Linked DNA regions of Homo sapiens: region 2 is linked to region 1. A link means that fine-mapping ties the variant in region 1 to the expression of a gene that starts in the linked region. Tissue or cell type: tibial nerve. Region 1 holds a variant in brackets; the other region holds the start of a gene. All regions are shown on one strand. Distances are from middle to middle.

Region 1 (8,101 bases):
TGAACATAGACAAGCTGACATGATGGACGCTGACTTGGGGACAGATGGCACCTGACCCAGCTCCAGGGTGGGGGTTGACAAAGGCAGCTGGAGAGGGGAAAGGTGGTCAGGTTGGGACAACTGTCTGGGCAAAGGCTCAGAGGTGTGGCTGTGCTCAGGGGATTGGGACACACTGCAAAGTTTCCTTAAGGCTGGAAGTCGCCTGATAGGCACCGGGGGGTGGGAGAGTGGGGGCGTGGGAGGTAGGGGGCAGGCAGAGGGTTGAACAGAATATTTATTTGCTGAGCTGGAATTGAGCCCTAGTCCCTTTCCCAACACAGACTTATCTCTTCCCCCCACAACCATCCTCACCAGAATTTTGGCCAGAAACAAGAGGAGTCCTGTCCGAGGAGAGCCCGGCTGGCTGACTGGAATCCCAAGACATGCCAAGGTGTTAGAGGCACTGCCAGGGAGACCCCTCGGCCCTTCACACAGTGGCTATCCTCTGGGATATTCCTGTATCCACAAAATGTATTTTCTGCACACACAGGTCCCTGGGAAATGACAGGACACCCAGATCTGCTGGGAGCAGAGTTCTCATAGGGTCCCAGCTGAGCCCTGGAACTCCCCAGACCCCCTCTGCCACTCCATCTCTGCGTCAGCCCAGCACCTGTGCCCTATCCGGCTTTGGCCACCATCTCCACCCTGGGGAGGGGGAGCATAACCCCCTCCAGCCTGAGGTTGGCGCCAAGGTTTAGGAGCCAGCACAGAAGCCTCTGAGAGCCATAAGGGTAGAAAAGGTTACCCGGTACTAAACCAGCCAGCCTCGGGGTGATCTCATCCACTTCCCAAGATAAGCCCCCTCCCCCACCCTCTGGCCACTGGCCAACAGGGTAAGTCACGAGGGAGCTGGTGGAAGAGTGTGTGTGAGGGCTGGGGGAAGGATTTCAACTTGGGGTCACACTGTACATTCTGTTTTGTGATCAATTCCCCCCAACATTTACAGTATTGACAATTAGCAGTTTCCTGTCAGATAAACTATAAAGATCTTCCCCCATCACTTTTTCTTTTCCTAATTATTTCTAAAGTCTGCCAGGATGGACACATCAGAATCTCTTTGTCCAGCCCTTGAGGAGGACATGTAAACAGTGTCCAGTTTCTCTTTCTTACAAACACCAGTGCCATAACCATTTTTGTTCAAATCCTCTTACGCAATTGCCTCTCTCTCTCTCTCCCTTTCTCTCTTTCTCTCTCCCTCTCTCTATTTCTCACTCAGTTGAGATAAATTCTGCCTGGTAGCAGGTGGGAGGGCAGGCCTCACTGTGTGCCTGAGTAGTTCTGGGCCCTTCCCCAAGCCAGAGGTGCCAGGCCCAGGGCAGAGGCCAGTCCAGGGCCACAGGGTCAGGACAGTGGACAGGCTATGGTCTGCTGGACTCTGCCTGCTCGAGGCGGGCTCCCCAAGCTTCCACCTGCTCTTGCCCACCCCCAGCCCCAAGGACTAGGCTGGCCTGGACACAGGGAAAGGCCATATACAGGGTATCACATGACCCATGCGTGCACACAGCCCCCAATCCCAGGCATAGGCAGAGGTCCCAGCCTCAGGGTGGGGCCCCCACACTCCGTCCAATTCACATCTTGCCTAGTGCTCCCCAGCTCTTGCTAGAATGCTTCCATAGACCAACAGCTCACTCTCCCTCCTAAGTTGCTGCCCGGCCTTTGGGGAGCAGGTGGAGCACATGCTTCTTATCAAATCAATACCTATTCGGTAGAATCACATGATTGCTGAGGAAGGTTTGGATTCAGACACCAGGGTTTCAAACTCGACTCTGCATTTACTATTTTTGTGACCTTGGGCACAACCTTTTACATGCCCAGGCTCAGTTTCTTCATCTGTAAAATGGGTTAATAATACTTGATCATAGGGTTGCATGAAGATTAAATGAGATAATACATGTAAAGTGCTCAGCAAGGCTCACAGATGTGACCTAGTTTATGATCACAAATTATCACAAATTGAGTCCCTACTATGTCCAGTTAACAGAGAGACTCCCTCACTGGAAGCAACTCAGAGTGGCTGAAGCACAGAAGTGGTAGAGGTATGAGATGGGGTTGAAGAGTGGGCAGGGCCAGGTCACACTCAGCCTTGCACATCATGAAGGGATTGTGACATTTTTCTGACTCCTTGGAAGCAGGGGAGGATGGTGGGAGGCAGAAATGGGAGGATGTCACTGAAAGCTTTTATTATTTTTTTTAATGATTTGTTTGTTTGTTTGTTTGTTTGTTTTAGAGACAGGTCTCTATTGCTCAGGCTGGAGTGCAGTGGCATGATCATAGCTCACTGTAACCTCAAACTCCTGGGTTCAAGCGATCCTTCTGCCTCAGCCTCCCAAGTGGCTGGAACTACAGGGGTGTGCGACCACTCCTGGCTCATTTTGTTCAACATTATTTTGTTACAACATTGATGAAGAAAAAAATCTATTTCTGGCTGGGGCTACTGTCTGTGTGGAGTCTGTAGAGGACTTTCTCTGGGTACTCTGGTTTCTTCCCCCATCCCAAAGATGTGCATGTTAGATTAACTAGCTTGTCTGCATGCTCCCAGTCTGCATGAGTGTGAGTGTACTCAAGGCAATGGCATCCTGTCTAGGCCTGGTTCCCGCCTGGCGCCCTGAGCTGCTGGGATAGGCTCCAGCCATCCATGACCTTGAACTGGAATAACTGGATAAATAATTCTATTACTTGTTTTTATTAATCTTTCTTTCTTTCTTTTTTTTTTTTTTTTTTGAGATGGAGTTTCACTCTTGTTGCCCACGCTGGAGTGCAATGACACAATCTTGGCTCACTGCAACCTCCGCCTCCTGGATTCAAGAAATTCTCCTGCCTCAGCCTCCTGAGCAGCTGGGATTACAGGTGCCCACCACCAAGCCCGGCTAATTTTTGTATTTTTAGGAGAGACAGGGTTTCGCCATGTTGGCCAGGCTGGTCTCAAATCCCTGACCTCAGGTGATCCACCTTCCCCAGCCTCCCAAAGTGCTGGGATTACAGGTGTGAGCCACCACACCTGGCCTTGTTTCTATTAGTCTTTCTTACACGTGTTTCAATGTTTAATATGAGAAGCATTTGGGTCTTTATTTAGAAGTCTGATGATATTTCTATCACCAGAAATATGCTGTAGGAACTTAACTCTTGTTTATGTCAATTAGCCTATGACAAAATTGGTTTCCTTGTATGTCATTTTGCTTAAAGCTGCAATTTCCAAGAACTACATTAAGTGAGGACATTATATAAAGACTTACTATATTCTATTAGTTGTTGTCAGGCCTCTGAGCTCAAGCTAAGCCATCATATCCCTTGTGACCTGCACCTATACATCCAGATGGCCTGGAGCAACTGAAGATCCACAAAAGAAGTGAAAATAGCCTTAACTGATGACATTCCACCATTGTGATTTGTTTCTTCCCCACCCTAACTGATCAATGTACTTTGTAATCTCCCCCACCCTTAAGAAGGTTCTTTGTAATTCTCCCCACCCTTGAGAAGGTACTTTGTGAGATCCACTCCCTGCCTGCCAAACATTGCTCCTAACTCCACCGTCTATCCCC[A/G]AACCTATAAGAGCTAATGATAATCCCACCACCCTTGCTGACTCCTTTTTCGGACTCAGCCCGCCTTGAGTCCAAAATAAATAAACAGCCTTGTTGCTCACACAAAACCTGTTTGGTGGACTCTCTTCACATGGACGTGCGTGAGACAGTTATAAGCAAGACTCTAAGGCCAGCCCAGATTCAAGAGGAGAGGAATTAGACCCCACTCCTTGATGGAAAGAGTGTCAAGGAATTTGTGGTTATCCTTAAAACCATAACAGGGCCAGCTGGAGCAACATGGCGAAACCTCATCTCCACAAAAAATACAAAAATTAGCCAGGTGATGGTGCACGCCTGTAGCCCCAGCTACTCGGAAGGCTGAGGTGGGAGGATCACCTGAGCCAGGGGAAGTTTGTCTCACGTGTCCGTGTGAAGAGACCACCAAACAGGCTTTGTGTGAGCAACAAGGCTGTTTATTTCACCTGGGTGCAAGTGGGCTGAGTCCGAAAAGAGAGTCAGCAAAGAAAGGGTGGTGGATTAATCATTAGTTCTTACAGGTTTTGGGATAGGCGGTGGAGTTAGGAGCAACGTTTGGCAGGCAGGGAGTGGATCTCACAAAGTACCTTCTCAAGGGTGGGGAGAATTACAAAGAACATTCTTAAGGGTGGGGCAGATTACAAAGTACATTGATCAGTTAGGGTGGGGCAGAAACAAATCACAATGGTGGAATGTCATCAGTTAAGGCTATTTTCACTTCTTCTGTGGATCTTCAGTTGCTTCAGGTGATCTGGATGTATACGTGCAGGTCACAAGGGATATGATGGCTTAGCTTGGGCTTAGAGGCCGGACATTGTTGAGGCTACAGTGAGCCATGATCCTGCCACTGCACTCCAGTCTGGGCAACAGAGTGAGACTCTGTCTCAAAACAAAAAGCCCATAGCAAGAAGCAAAAGTTGGAGGGTTCTCGGCTCCATCCCAGGGATAACCAGGGCACAGGCCCAATGCTTGCAAGAGGTGACTTCAGCTTGTGAGGAAAGACAAGGATCTCTTTCTCTTTTCCCACTCTTTCCTCCCTAACATTTTAAATGCATGTGCAAGTGCCTACTTCATACCAGGCACTGGGCTGATCCCTGGGGACTCAGAGGAGAGTCAGAGGAGGTCCCTGGTGCCGCCAAGAGGGCAGACAGACTGACAGACATTGGCAAGCTATCTGAGGAGATGTGATGGAGGTCCCAGTGCCATGGGAACTGGAGACAGGAGCTGGTACTGCCTGGAAAGCCAGGAAGTCTTCCCAGGGCAGGGGATGCTTCAGCAGAGTCATGCTGAGTCGCAGGAACAAGACAGGTGGAGGTGGATGGTGCAGTGGTAGGTGTTCCAGCGGAGGGAACAGCAAGGCCAAAGGCCTGGCATGTTCTAGGAACATGTGACAGCCATGCCCACCCTGCTGGGAACAGATGGAGGAGGCTGGAGAGGCCACCCTGGGGAGAGGGAGTCTGAGCTTTCCTCCTTAGGGTGAGGGGGAGCCATGGTTCGGAGCAAAGGAGTGACATGGTCACGATGACTGTGGTGTAGTGGGTGGAACTGACTAGACGGACAGCCGTCATTTGGGGCAGTGGAAGATAAAGGTGGTGTAGTCCATTATTGGAACTGGGACAGGGGAGGACAGATGGGAATGGCCCCCCGGGCTGCTGGAAGAGTGGTTGTGGGGACTGGCTGTAGGGAATGGGGTAGGGAGGATGGGGGTCAGAGGCATGGGGTGGTCCACAGAGGAGAACAGCCATGCGGGGGAAGATGGTCAAGGTGGCAGCCACTCCCCCACCATCTGGAGCTCACTGCCTGGCTCTGGCTTCTCCTGGGACCCCAGCAGTTCCTTCCCTACAAGACAGGGCTGGGTGACCACAGGACCGGCCCTTCCTCCACCCACACTTGTTCCCAGCCCCAAAGACATCCCAAGTCCCAGGAGGCTTTCCAAAGGTGCTCCAAGCTGCAGTCGCCAGGAGACCCAGCTTGGGCTGGGGACAGGCCTCAGGCCGCATCTCATGAACATTTTCCTCCAACGGCACTCAGCTGATGCCAGTGTGGTCAGATGGCGACATCTAGAGGCAACTTCTGCTTCATGCTGCCTCACTCACAGAACCCCACAGCCAAAGGCTCCCCACTGGTGTTCTCATCATGCCACCCTCAGGATTTAGTAACCAAGACACCAGTCAGAGCTTGGAAGAGCTTCTCCACCCCTTCATGCCAAAGCCCAGTACAGGGCTGGCAAGGTCCCTGGGACCCCAAGTGAACCGTGGACACTCTCCCCTTCCACAGGCCCAGGAGCATGCTGGCTGGTTGACAACCTTCCCCACACCATCCCTTCACTGCTTCGTTTCAGAGGAAGGGATTCTAGCAGCTCAGCCAACTCTCCGCTCATACAGCAATGTCCTCACCTCCGCCTCACCATCCGGGATCATCCTGTGTCCAGGGCCCTGAGTGAGAACACAGAATGGCCCTCACCTTTCTGTAGTGTTCCCCTTTTTCTGTTTTTGTTTGTTTGTTTTGTCTTGTTTTGTTTTGGAGACAGGAACTCATTCTGTCACCCAAGCTGCAGTGCAGTGGTGCGATCATCTCTCTTTGCAGCCTTGACCTCCCGGGCTCAAGCGATCCTCACACTTCAGCCTCCCAAGTAGCTGGGACCACAGGCATGCACTACTACACCTGGCTATGTAGTGTTCTTTTTTTGGCGAATTGTTCATTTCCATCCACCCACACCCAAAGCCCCTCTGGTACTGGACACTCCTCACCAACTTTCCTTGCTTTTCACAGCCATGCAGCCACTCACTGTTTGCCTCCTTCTCTCTCACCTGCTCCTCCCTGAATTGTCTATCCACCACACCATCAGTCCTCCCATCCTTCCTCACTCATTCCACAGGCAGCCTGTGCACCCCCAGGGCAGGACAGGGGACCAGGACTGTAGCCACAGGGGTGGGGATGAGGAGGAGGCAAACGAGGAAACAAGAATACCCAAAAGCCCTGGTATCAACATGCAGGGAAAGTGGGGGACTGAGGCAGGACTTTCTGCTTTGCCCCCTCCCTACCTCTATGCTGATGAAGAGCCAGCCATGCCTCCAGCCCTTCCTGAGGCCACCACATGATCTTGCTTATTTTCCCATTCCAGGAGGTCACCTGCAGGGCTCCTCCCACCTAGCCACAATGGCTAGTCCCGCTGCCTCCACAGTGGCCCTGCAGCCCCATCCCAGACCCACTGCACGGGGTCACAAGCTTGTGCAGGGTGGACAGAGCAGTAGCTCATGGCAGACATTCCTTCTGTTCATCTGTTGCAGGGAAAATGGGGTGAGGCATGGGAGGGGTTCCCAGAATCCCAGAAAGGCAGAAGGAGTTGAGATCTGAGACAGAGTAGGCTTTGGAGACTCCCTCCACAGACCACTCTCCCAGGGGCTAGGTTAATGGGCCTGCTTTGGGAAGCTGGGGCAGGTGAATCACCTGAGGTCAGGAGTTCGAGACCAGCCTGGCCAACATGGTGAAACCTCATCTCTACTAAAATACAAAAATTAGCCAGGTGTGGCTGCACATGCCTGTAGTCCCAGCCACTCGGGAGGCTGAGGCACAAGAATCACTTGAACCCAGGAGGTGGAAGTTGCAGTGAGCCAAGATCACGTCACTACACTCCAGCCTGGGTGACAGAGTGAGACTCTGTCTCAAAAAAAGAAAAAATGAAAAAAAAAAAAAAAAAAAGAAAAAGAACTGGGGCTGGACACGGTGGCTCACATCTGTAATCCCAGCACTTTGAGAGCCTGAGGCAGGAGGATCACTTGAGGCCAGGAGTTCAAGGCTGTAGTGAGCCATGACTGCACCACTGCACTCCAGCCTGGGCAATAGAGCAAGACCCTGCTAAAAAAAAAAAAAAAATATATATACATATATATATATATATATATATATATATATATACACACATATATATCAGAACTGGAGCCCAGGCCTCCACAGCCCCGCTCCCCCACTCCACCCTCCCTCCCACTTCCTGCCTTGCTCCTCCCAGCTAGATGATTTCCCAGATCAAGGCTGCTTGCTGGTAGAGAAAGTCAGGGGCCAATGGAGCAAAGATATTTGGACCCACAGACATCAGTAAAGGTTCATCCATCCCAGAGAGCTGATTGGAGCACTGGCCACCAACAATTCAGAGGATCACTAAGCTGGGGACCATTTAAGGGCATTTAGTAGCATCAAGTAAAATGGAAACAGAAACTCTAGAGATGGGCCAGGCATGGAGGCTCACACATGGAATCCTAGCACTTTGGGAGGCCGAGGCAAGAGGGTCGCTTGAGGCCAAGAGTTTGAGACCAGCCTGGATGACATGGCAAAACCCCATCTCTACAAAATACAAAAAAAATTAGCTGGGCATGGTGGCACATACTTGTAGTTTCAGCTATTCTGGAGGCTGAGGTGGGAGGATGGTTTGAGCCCAGGAGGCAGAGGTTGCAGTAAGAAGATATCATGCCATTGCACTCCAGCCTGGGTGACAGAGCCAGATCCTATCT
Region 2 (8,101 bases), 28 kb before region 1:
ACTCGGGAGGCGGAGGTGGGAGGATCGCTTGAGCCCAGGAGGTTGAGGCTGCAGTGAGCTATGATTGTGCCACTGCACTCCGTCCTGGGTGACAGAGCAACACCCTGTCTCAAAAAAAAAAAAAAACTTACAGCTAGGGAGTAAAGGAGGCCCTGAGCAGCTTGATAGGTGCTGTGCAGCTGGCAGGGGGCGCCGTTGCCTACAGAAGGGGCTAAGCCCATCCTGAACCCCAACTCCTATTGCTCCCACTCAGCTCACTCTTAGGAGGGAGTGGCCTCGCCACCTAATGACCAAGAGGAGGTGCTGGATCTGGCTACCTAAGATCAGAGAGGTGAAGCCATCAGCCCCTATTGCCCAGAGCTTCTTCATCTGTGAGGGGGATAGTCATGGCAACCACTTGGGACTGCCCTTGGGAGATTTAAATGGGTCTAGGCCTAGCTCTGATGATCTAGGCACTGTATCCCGCACAGATGAGGAAGCTGAGGGCTCCAGAGAGGCAGAGTGAACAGCTGAGCCCCAGGGAGCCTTCCCGAGCTGAAGGCCTCACACCCTACGACGTGTGTACCTTCTGCCGGACAGTCCCTGTCTGAGGTGGCCATGGTGTCTGTGTTGAGCTGGGGATGAAGGGAGTCATGGGGGCGGCAGGTGTGATTGAGTCATTTGGCTGGCCTTCCTGGCAGCCAGGCCATGGTGGGTGAGGGACACCAAACTGCTCATGCCACAGCTGACATATCAGATAGTTCTCTTGTCACTCTTGACTCATCAGTGCCTGGCCCCTGGCTGCCTGCAGGGCCACCATCTGTGCATCCTGGGCCAGTGCCCAGGGAACTTTCTGGAACCCCAGATGCTATCTGAGGACACAAGGGTACAGGGGATGGTGAAGTTTGAGGTTCCTGAAACCCTCCACCAGGTATGTCTGGCTCTGCTGTTTCTGGCCTGTGACTCCTCAGGCTTTGGTTACCATGTCTACAAAATGGGAACAACAAATCATAGCTGAGTTTGACCCAGGGATTAGATGACATGTATGAACATGCCCGGCCATGTCTATTTTTGCTCATCATCCTGCCCCCAGCACAAGGGCCTGGCACACAGTAGGTATTTAGTACAGGACCGCGGAATGAATGAATGCATTGGGCCTTAGAACACAGCAGAGGCTCTGGGGCCTGAAGGCTGTGGTGTGAGGAGGGGGTGGGGACACTGAAGCCCAGCCCAGTTCCCTCTGCAGCATCTTGTCACCTGAGGGACGGGGAAGAGTGTGGGGTCCTACAGAGAGGAGACATGGGTATGGGGCTAGGGGAGAGGTATCTGCATTGTTCCTGAGACCTCTGCCCCACTCCTGGACAGACCACCATCCTGGAGAGAGTGGAGCAGAAACAGGAGAGGGACCACAAATTCACCTAACCTGCCCCATCCAACGAAGGATGATCATGATAAACGTGCTCTTAGTGAGATATTACTGTGTGCCCGACTTGAGCCAACTACTGTGCCTCTGCATTTCATGTTTGTTTTGTCTTATAATAACCATCAGGAAGAGGTGATCCCTGTTCTACACTGGAGAAACTGAGGCTCAGCCTAGATAAATGGACACAGGTGAAACAGCTAGCAAGGAGCACAGCTGGGATCTGAAGCCCGGGCGGACCTAGGAGTGGTTCTAGCCTCAGTTTATTCCTCCTGGGCAGCCATGCTCAGCCCAGAGAGCTGGGAGAACCAGGTGGTGGGAGTGGGGGTGTCTCAAGGTTGTGTCCTGGTGTTAATCCCTGGGGCCCCTGGCCATATCTAGCTTGTGGTGAGTGTCTCTGGCCTGTTGGAGCAGCCACTGGAATGCCTGGGGCTTGAGTGGCCCTTTGTGGTTGCAGTTCCCTTGGCAATGAAGAAACACTGCTGAGGTCAAGAGCTCAGATTGCCAGAGGGGAAACCCAGCCCTCCTTCTTTGCATGGCCCCCTGCTGGGAAGGGCCACAGCTACCCCCCACCCTCGCCCTCTGCCAGACACCCAGAGGAGGCTCTTTCCAGTGGCACAGTCATGGGGTTGGAGGGGGCACAGGCAGCCCAGCCAGGATTCCTCATGGGAAGTGTGTGGTGGCTCTTTAGACTTGCCTGCTAACGGGAGGCTCTGCCCATAACTTCCTCTTCCCACTGGAGTTCGTTCAGGAAGCCAGAACCAGCATGGGGATGCTCAGGCCTCCAAGATCCCCTAGGACCATGGGCAGGCCACCCCTCAGCCCAGCTTTTGCCTACTTTGAAGACCTCAAGGACAAGAGGGCCCTAATCTTACCGAGCCAGGCCCTCCTCAATCCAAGGCCTTCTTAGGCGTTGCCAAGGAAACTGATGCAGCAGCCAAAGAGCCTGGCCCAGGTCTCCATGACAACCTACCACAGCCCACCAGGGTCCATCCATCTGTGATGTCACCTGAGCCCCAAATGGATGCCCTCCCACCCCCACCACACTTGTCACAATCAGATGTCACAGTCTGATAGCAGGTCCCTGTCACAAAATACCTCACAGCCTGACCTGCAACCCTCAGACCCCTGAGAGATGAGCAGGGAGCTAAGACACTCCTCATGCCTTGACCACACCCTGTGTTTATGCCCCTTTTGGGTGGGGGCCTGAACCTCCAGGCCCTGGATGTGCCCTGGGTGGCTGGCTCAGCCTACAGCTAGAGGGAAGAAGGGAGACCTTGACGACTCGAAGTGGCTGGCTCCTGCTGGCATTCAACACCCATTGGCCTGGATTTCCCCAACTCTGGGCAACTTCCAGTCCAGGAGCAGAATAACCAGAGCCACGGCCAGGGCCAGGGCTGGGGCAGATTATTTATTTTTAGCAGAGTTGCTGGCAGCTGCCTGGTGGGTGCTGGGAGGTGGGATGGGGACTGAGTTTAATCCCTTCCCTCTTCTGGGCTGGGGTATCCTCCCCAGGGTTCAAGCAGGCATCTCCACCTGCAACTCTGTCAGAGCTGCCCCCACCCCCAACAGCCCTCTCAGGGCCCCCAGGGGCTCATGGGGTGACACCAACCCTCACACTGAAGGTTAGGCTCATTAGGGAGAATCTTCAACTCCAGGATGGGGAGTGGAAAGGATTTTGTGTGAATTTAGGACACCCCCTAAATTCTAGCTCAGACCTGAGCCTATGGGGAGTGGGTGTCATGGGCAGAGAAGGGGGATCTCTGTCCAGCCTGTAACTAGCTTACTTGCTAAAAGGACGAGCCGGGACTTGGGGAGAGGAAAGGGAGAATTCAGTCTCACGGGGCCAGACCGAATTCTTCTCCAGAGGGCAGTTGCTGCTTTTGGCTGATTGGGTTTACCCCGCTGCCTGCCTCCCCATCACGTACTCCCCCCGCAACCTCGCTCTCTCTCTCCTTCTCACACACACCCTCAGCTCCGGACCTCGCCTACCGGTCAGCCCCTCTATTCCCAGACAGCTACCGCTACTCCCCTGGCGGGTAGGGCGGGGTGTCGGGGATGTAAGGTCCGAGGAAGAGGGTGGGGGATTCCCCTGGTGGGGGTGGACAGACACGTCAGCCCCCGCAGCAGCGTGGACCGGGGGCGGGAGCGGGGGCGGGTGGAGGCTTAAATAGGCGGCTCTGGAGCCAGAGCCCAGTGCGGGCTGAGAAGGCGGTGGCTGCAGCAGCAGCGGCGGCGGAAACCCTAAAGTCCGAGTCCGGACTACGAGTGCGTGGCCTCCTAATCCGGATCCTAGTCCTGAGCGTGTCTGTGTGCGAGTGGGTGAGTGTCCTGGCGGAGCGGGGTCGGGGCGGCTGCAGATGGATGCGCCAGGTCCGGAGGGGTCCCGGGTGAGGGCGCCGCGACCTGGGGGCTGGGGGAGGGCTGCGGCGGGACCTCGGCCGGAGCATCCCGCCTGACTCCGGGTTGGGCAGGTGCGCCCCGGGTCCCGCCTCCCTCGCGGCTTACACGGCCACTCGGGTTCCTGATCCCCTAGACGGTCCCGGACGCGATGACCCTGAACGGCGGCGGCAGCGGAGCGGGCGGGAGCCGCGGTGGGGGCCAGGAGCGCGAGCGCCGTCGGGGCAGCACACCCTGGGGCCCCGCCCCGCCGCTGCACCGCCGCAGCATGCCGGTGGACGAGCGCGACCTGCAGGCGGCGCTGACCCCGGGTGCCCTGACGGCGGCCGCGGCCGGGACGGGGACCCAGGGTCCCAGGCTGGACTGGCCCGAGGACTCCGAGGACTCGCTCAGCTCAGGGGGCAGCGACTCAGACGAGAGCGTTTACAAGGTGCTGCTGCTGGGGGCGCCCGGCGTGGGCAAGAGCGCCCTGGCGCGCATCTTCGGCGGTGTGGAGGACGGGCCTGAAGCAGAGGCAGCAGGTGAGGGGACCCAGCTGTTCAGGGGAGGGGCGATCCCGGGGCTAGGACTAGGGGCTGAGACCGGTACTCAAAGCCGCAAATACCGTGGAATTATAGTTGTTGTTGTTGTTATTATTATTATTATTATTATTTTATTATTATTTTGAGACAGAGTTTCGCTCTTTTTCCCAGGCTGGAGTGCAGTGGCCTCGATCTAGGCTCACTGCAACCTCCGCCTTCAGGTTTCAAGGGATTCTCCTGCCTCAGCCTCCAGAGTAGCTAGGATTACAGGCGCCTGCTACCACGCCCGGCTAATATTTGTGTTTTTAGTAGAGTTGGGGTTTCACCATGTTGGCCAGGCTGGTCTGGAATTTCTGACCTCGTGATCCGCCCACCTTGGCTTCCCAAAGTGCTGGGATTACAGGCGTGAGCCACCGCACCTGGCCAATACTGTGGAATTCTATTGGCGCTTTCAGAATCATGCCTCTACCTACCCACTTCATAAATGGGGAAAGGAAAGGAGAAGGGACACCCCCCAGCCTTTGGTAGGGAAGAAATGCCCAGAGTAGAAGGCCAGGGCATAGATATGGCTACTCTGTGGGATGGGACTGGACATCCCTCCCTGCCTATCAGGGACAGGTCAGAGTTTCTAACCAGAGGGATTTCTAAGAGAGGAGCCCTAGGTGGCCAAGGTCCCCAGGGGGGGCATGTGGGTGGAGGTCAGGCACACCATGCCCTCCAGCCCCCACTTCCCTGCCTGGCACTGCTGTTGCCACATACCAGCATCTGCAAGTGGAGTGGAGGGTAAGGAGGGCTCTGGGGAAGAGTTGGAGGGTGTGGCCAGAACAGGAAACCTGGCAGCAGCGGCTTTGACAACCAGCTGGTAACCTGTCTACTGGCCTTCTGCCTAGGGCACACCTATGATCGCTCCATTGTAGTGGACGGAGAAGAGGCATCACTCATGGTCTACGACATTTGGGAGCAGGTAGGGTGCAAGCAGAGACCCAGGGCAGGGGAGGGAGGAGTGAGTTGGGTTAGAGGTCTGGGAGTGCCAGGCTCGTGTCGGGGGCATGAGGACTGTTGGGCAGATGTGTGTTGTGTGTTCTCCAGGACGGGGGCCGCTGGTTGCCCGGCCACTGCATGGCCATGGGGGATGCCTATGTCATTGTGTACTCAGTGACGGACAAGGGCAGCTTCGAGAAGGCCTCAGAACTGCGGGTCCAGCTGCGGCGTGCACGGCAAACAGATGATGTGCCCATCATCCTCGTGGGCAACAAGAGCGACCTGGTGCGCTCTCGTGAGGTCTCGGTGGATGGTGAGTAGGCGGCAGGTTGCAGGGGGAGGGAGAGCCCAGCTGGGCCCTGATCCAGGCAGTCTTGGCTCAGCTTGAGTCCCTGGGGATCATCAGAGGCTAAAAATGTTCAGAAAGAAAACTGGCGGGGAGGGAAATGGGAGAGAGCTGGTGCCTGCTCACAGGGCTCCGGAAGGCCCCAGAGGGCTGGGGAAAGAACCAAATCTGATAGGGGAGCTGGGCACCGCAGGGCCCTCCTCTCCTGCCCCTCTTGGTCCTGGCCTGGCTGGTTGGGGGGGTAAATGGGTGGAAGAGAGTGTAGGGGAACAGGCCAGGAGGTCAGAGCCTGTGTGCTAGGTCTGGGCCATTCTTAGAGTAGACTTGGCCCTGGGGAAGACCCTTCCCACTTGGCCTCAGCATCCTTTTCTGTGGACCCCAGTACTGAGCCCCTCAGAGGAACCCAGCAGTGACTTGGTGACCTTGCCTCCGCAACCCCAGTCCACTGGATCATTCATCATGATATAACCTCGAATTAAAAAATACTAAGTTGTGCGGGGCATGGGCCAGGGGGTGGCTAACGCCTGTAATCCCAGCACTTTGGGAGGCCGAGGCGGGTGGATCACGAGGTCAGGAGATCGAGACCATCCTGGCTAGCATGGTGAAACCCCATCTCTACTAAAAATACAAAAATTAGCCGGGCGTGGTGGCGGGCGCCTGTAGTCCCAGCTACTCGGGAGGCTGAGGCAGGAGAATGGCGTGAACCCGGGAGGCGGAGCTTTCAGTGAGCAGAGATTGTGCCACTGCACTCCAGCCTGGGAGACAGCGAGACTCTATCTCAGAAAAATAAAATAAAATAAAATAAAATACTAAGTTGTCCAACATAGTTCTCATTTTCCTGTGTTTACTACTGTCGTACTTTGTTTAAATATCAGGCTTCAAATTATTTCAATAAATGGATCTCCTTTTGAGGGCCACTGTTTTGGGGGCTCCTTAAATGCAGGCACTCTGCCTACTGGGTGACGCAGCAGTGCCCAGTACCCTCAGTACAGGAGCTGGGGTCTCTGTGTTTTCGGGGAGGACCTTGCAAATTCTCGAGTGGCAGCTTCCATGGGTGGCCACTGTTGGAGGGGACTCCTCATTCACCCACCCTTTGTTTACTGGTGCCTGCCTTTCCCCACCCACACAGAGGGCCGGGCCTGCGCGGTGGTCTTTGACTGCAAGTTCATTGAGACATCAGCGGCATTGCACCACAATGTCCAGGCGCTGTTTGAAGGTGTCGTGCGCCAGATACGCCTGCGCAGGGACAGCAAAGAAGCCAACGCACGACGGCAAGCAGGCACCCGGAGGCGAGAGAGCCTTGGCAAAAAGGCGAAGCGCTTCTTGGGCCGCATCGTAGCTCGTAACAGCCGCAAGATGGCCTTTCGCGCCAAATCCAAGTCCTGCCACGACCTCTCGGTTCTCTAGGTCCCACCCGCTCCCACTATGGTGGGAGACGAACGGAAGGGTTGGTGGGCTGGCCCAGCCAACTGCCCCGGGTGCCTCAGAGCAGGCTCAGACTCTGGGTCCCTCGGAGCTGCCAGCCGGGCACCCCCAACCTCATGGTCATGGACAGATAGACAGTGCTGCCCTGCGAAGTGGCTCTCAGGGGCCAGTGAGGGCTGGGCCCACAGAGATGCATGCGCAGGCTCATATGCGTCCCAAGCAGCCGCAGCGCAGCCGCCGGGCAGGCCTGCGTGCCGGGAGAGGACTCTGCCTTTTTTCACAGCCCGGGTGTGCCTGCCCTGGAGGGAGGCTCTTCAGTGCGGTAGCTATTTGTTTACATGCAGATTTTTGTAATAAAGGCTATTTCCTGATAGTCATGGCTGTTGACTCTCTTTCCTCCTATCTGGGCGCTTCAGGAGCTGGAAGGATTTCTGAAGTTGAGGGATGGGGGCTCACTGCCCCACCCTAGTGTGTGGCCATGATGTGTTAATGTGAGGGTCCAGATTTAGCCAGCTGGGATGGGCATCGGGTCTGGTTAGAGGTTCAAGGAGCAGGAGACACAAACCCCTCCCAGTCCCTGTTATCCAGATTCTTCTCTTTCTGCACTGGGGCCTGGCGTTGCCCAACTGATTGAGGGTTCAATCACTTCACTGTCCATAAAGGGAAACAGGCTGCTCAGGGGAGCACATTCTGCCCTGGGTCTCACAACCAGGCAGGAACCCTGGGTCTCACAACCAGGCAGGAACCCTGGGTCTCACAACCAGACAGGATCTGGCTCCACAGCTGGTATTTCTGCCCTGTTCCCTCTTGAGGGGCTGGAATCAGCTGAGGTTGGGGATAGAGACCTCCGAGGGGTGGTTTGTGAAGGCACACACAGCTCCACATGGCTCCTCCACCACTTCACTGGGGTTGAGCTACGGAGGAGGCACTCACTGTTCTCTCTACCATGAGTATCCAGGCCAGAACATTCCATGCTCAGCATTGGCTAATTCAGTTTTGGTGGGAACAGCTGCCGGGAGCCCGCCCTGC

What was found. PIP is the estimated chance that this variant, and not a neighbour inherited with it, causes the effect.
Region 2: it holds the start of RRAD, and the variant in region 1 is fine-mapped to the expression of RRAD in tibial nerve (GTEx, PIP above 0.99).

What each region holds. Positions count from the first base shown.
Region 1 is chr16:66,892,922-66,901,022 of GRCh38, reverse strand. It overlaps LOC124903700 (a long non-coding RNA gene), which reads right to left. Exons shown (of 2, transcript XR_007065089.1): 2 at 4,009-6,028. It overlaps LOC107984821 (a long non-coding RNA gene), which reads left to right. Exons shown (of 3, transcript XR_001752244.2): 2 at 355-430; 3 at 530-1,334. Among named protein-coding and RNA genes, the nearest start is that of PDP2, 16 kb to the right of the region's middle. RefSeq lists enhancers at 126-1,019, 1,020-1,915. The variant A/G (reference allele first, on the strand shown) is at 3,579.
Region 2 is chr16:66,921,029-66,929,129 of GRCh38, reverse strand. It overlaps RRAD (RRAD, Ras related glycolysis inhibitor and calcium channel regulator), which reads left to right and starts at 3,595. Exons shown (of 5, transcript NM_004165.3): 1 at 3,595-3,721; 2 at 3,936-4,320; 3 at 5,211-5,284; 4 at 5,410-5,614; 5 at 6,777-7,445. The coding sequence starts at 3,951. The coding sequence ends at 7,054. RefSeq lists enhancers at 889-1,058, 776-1,975, 6,441-6,964, 6,965-7,488 and silencers at 3,601-3,660, 3,791-4,230.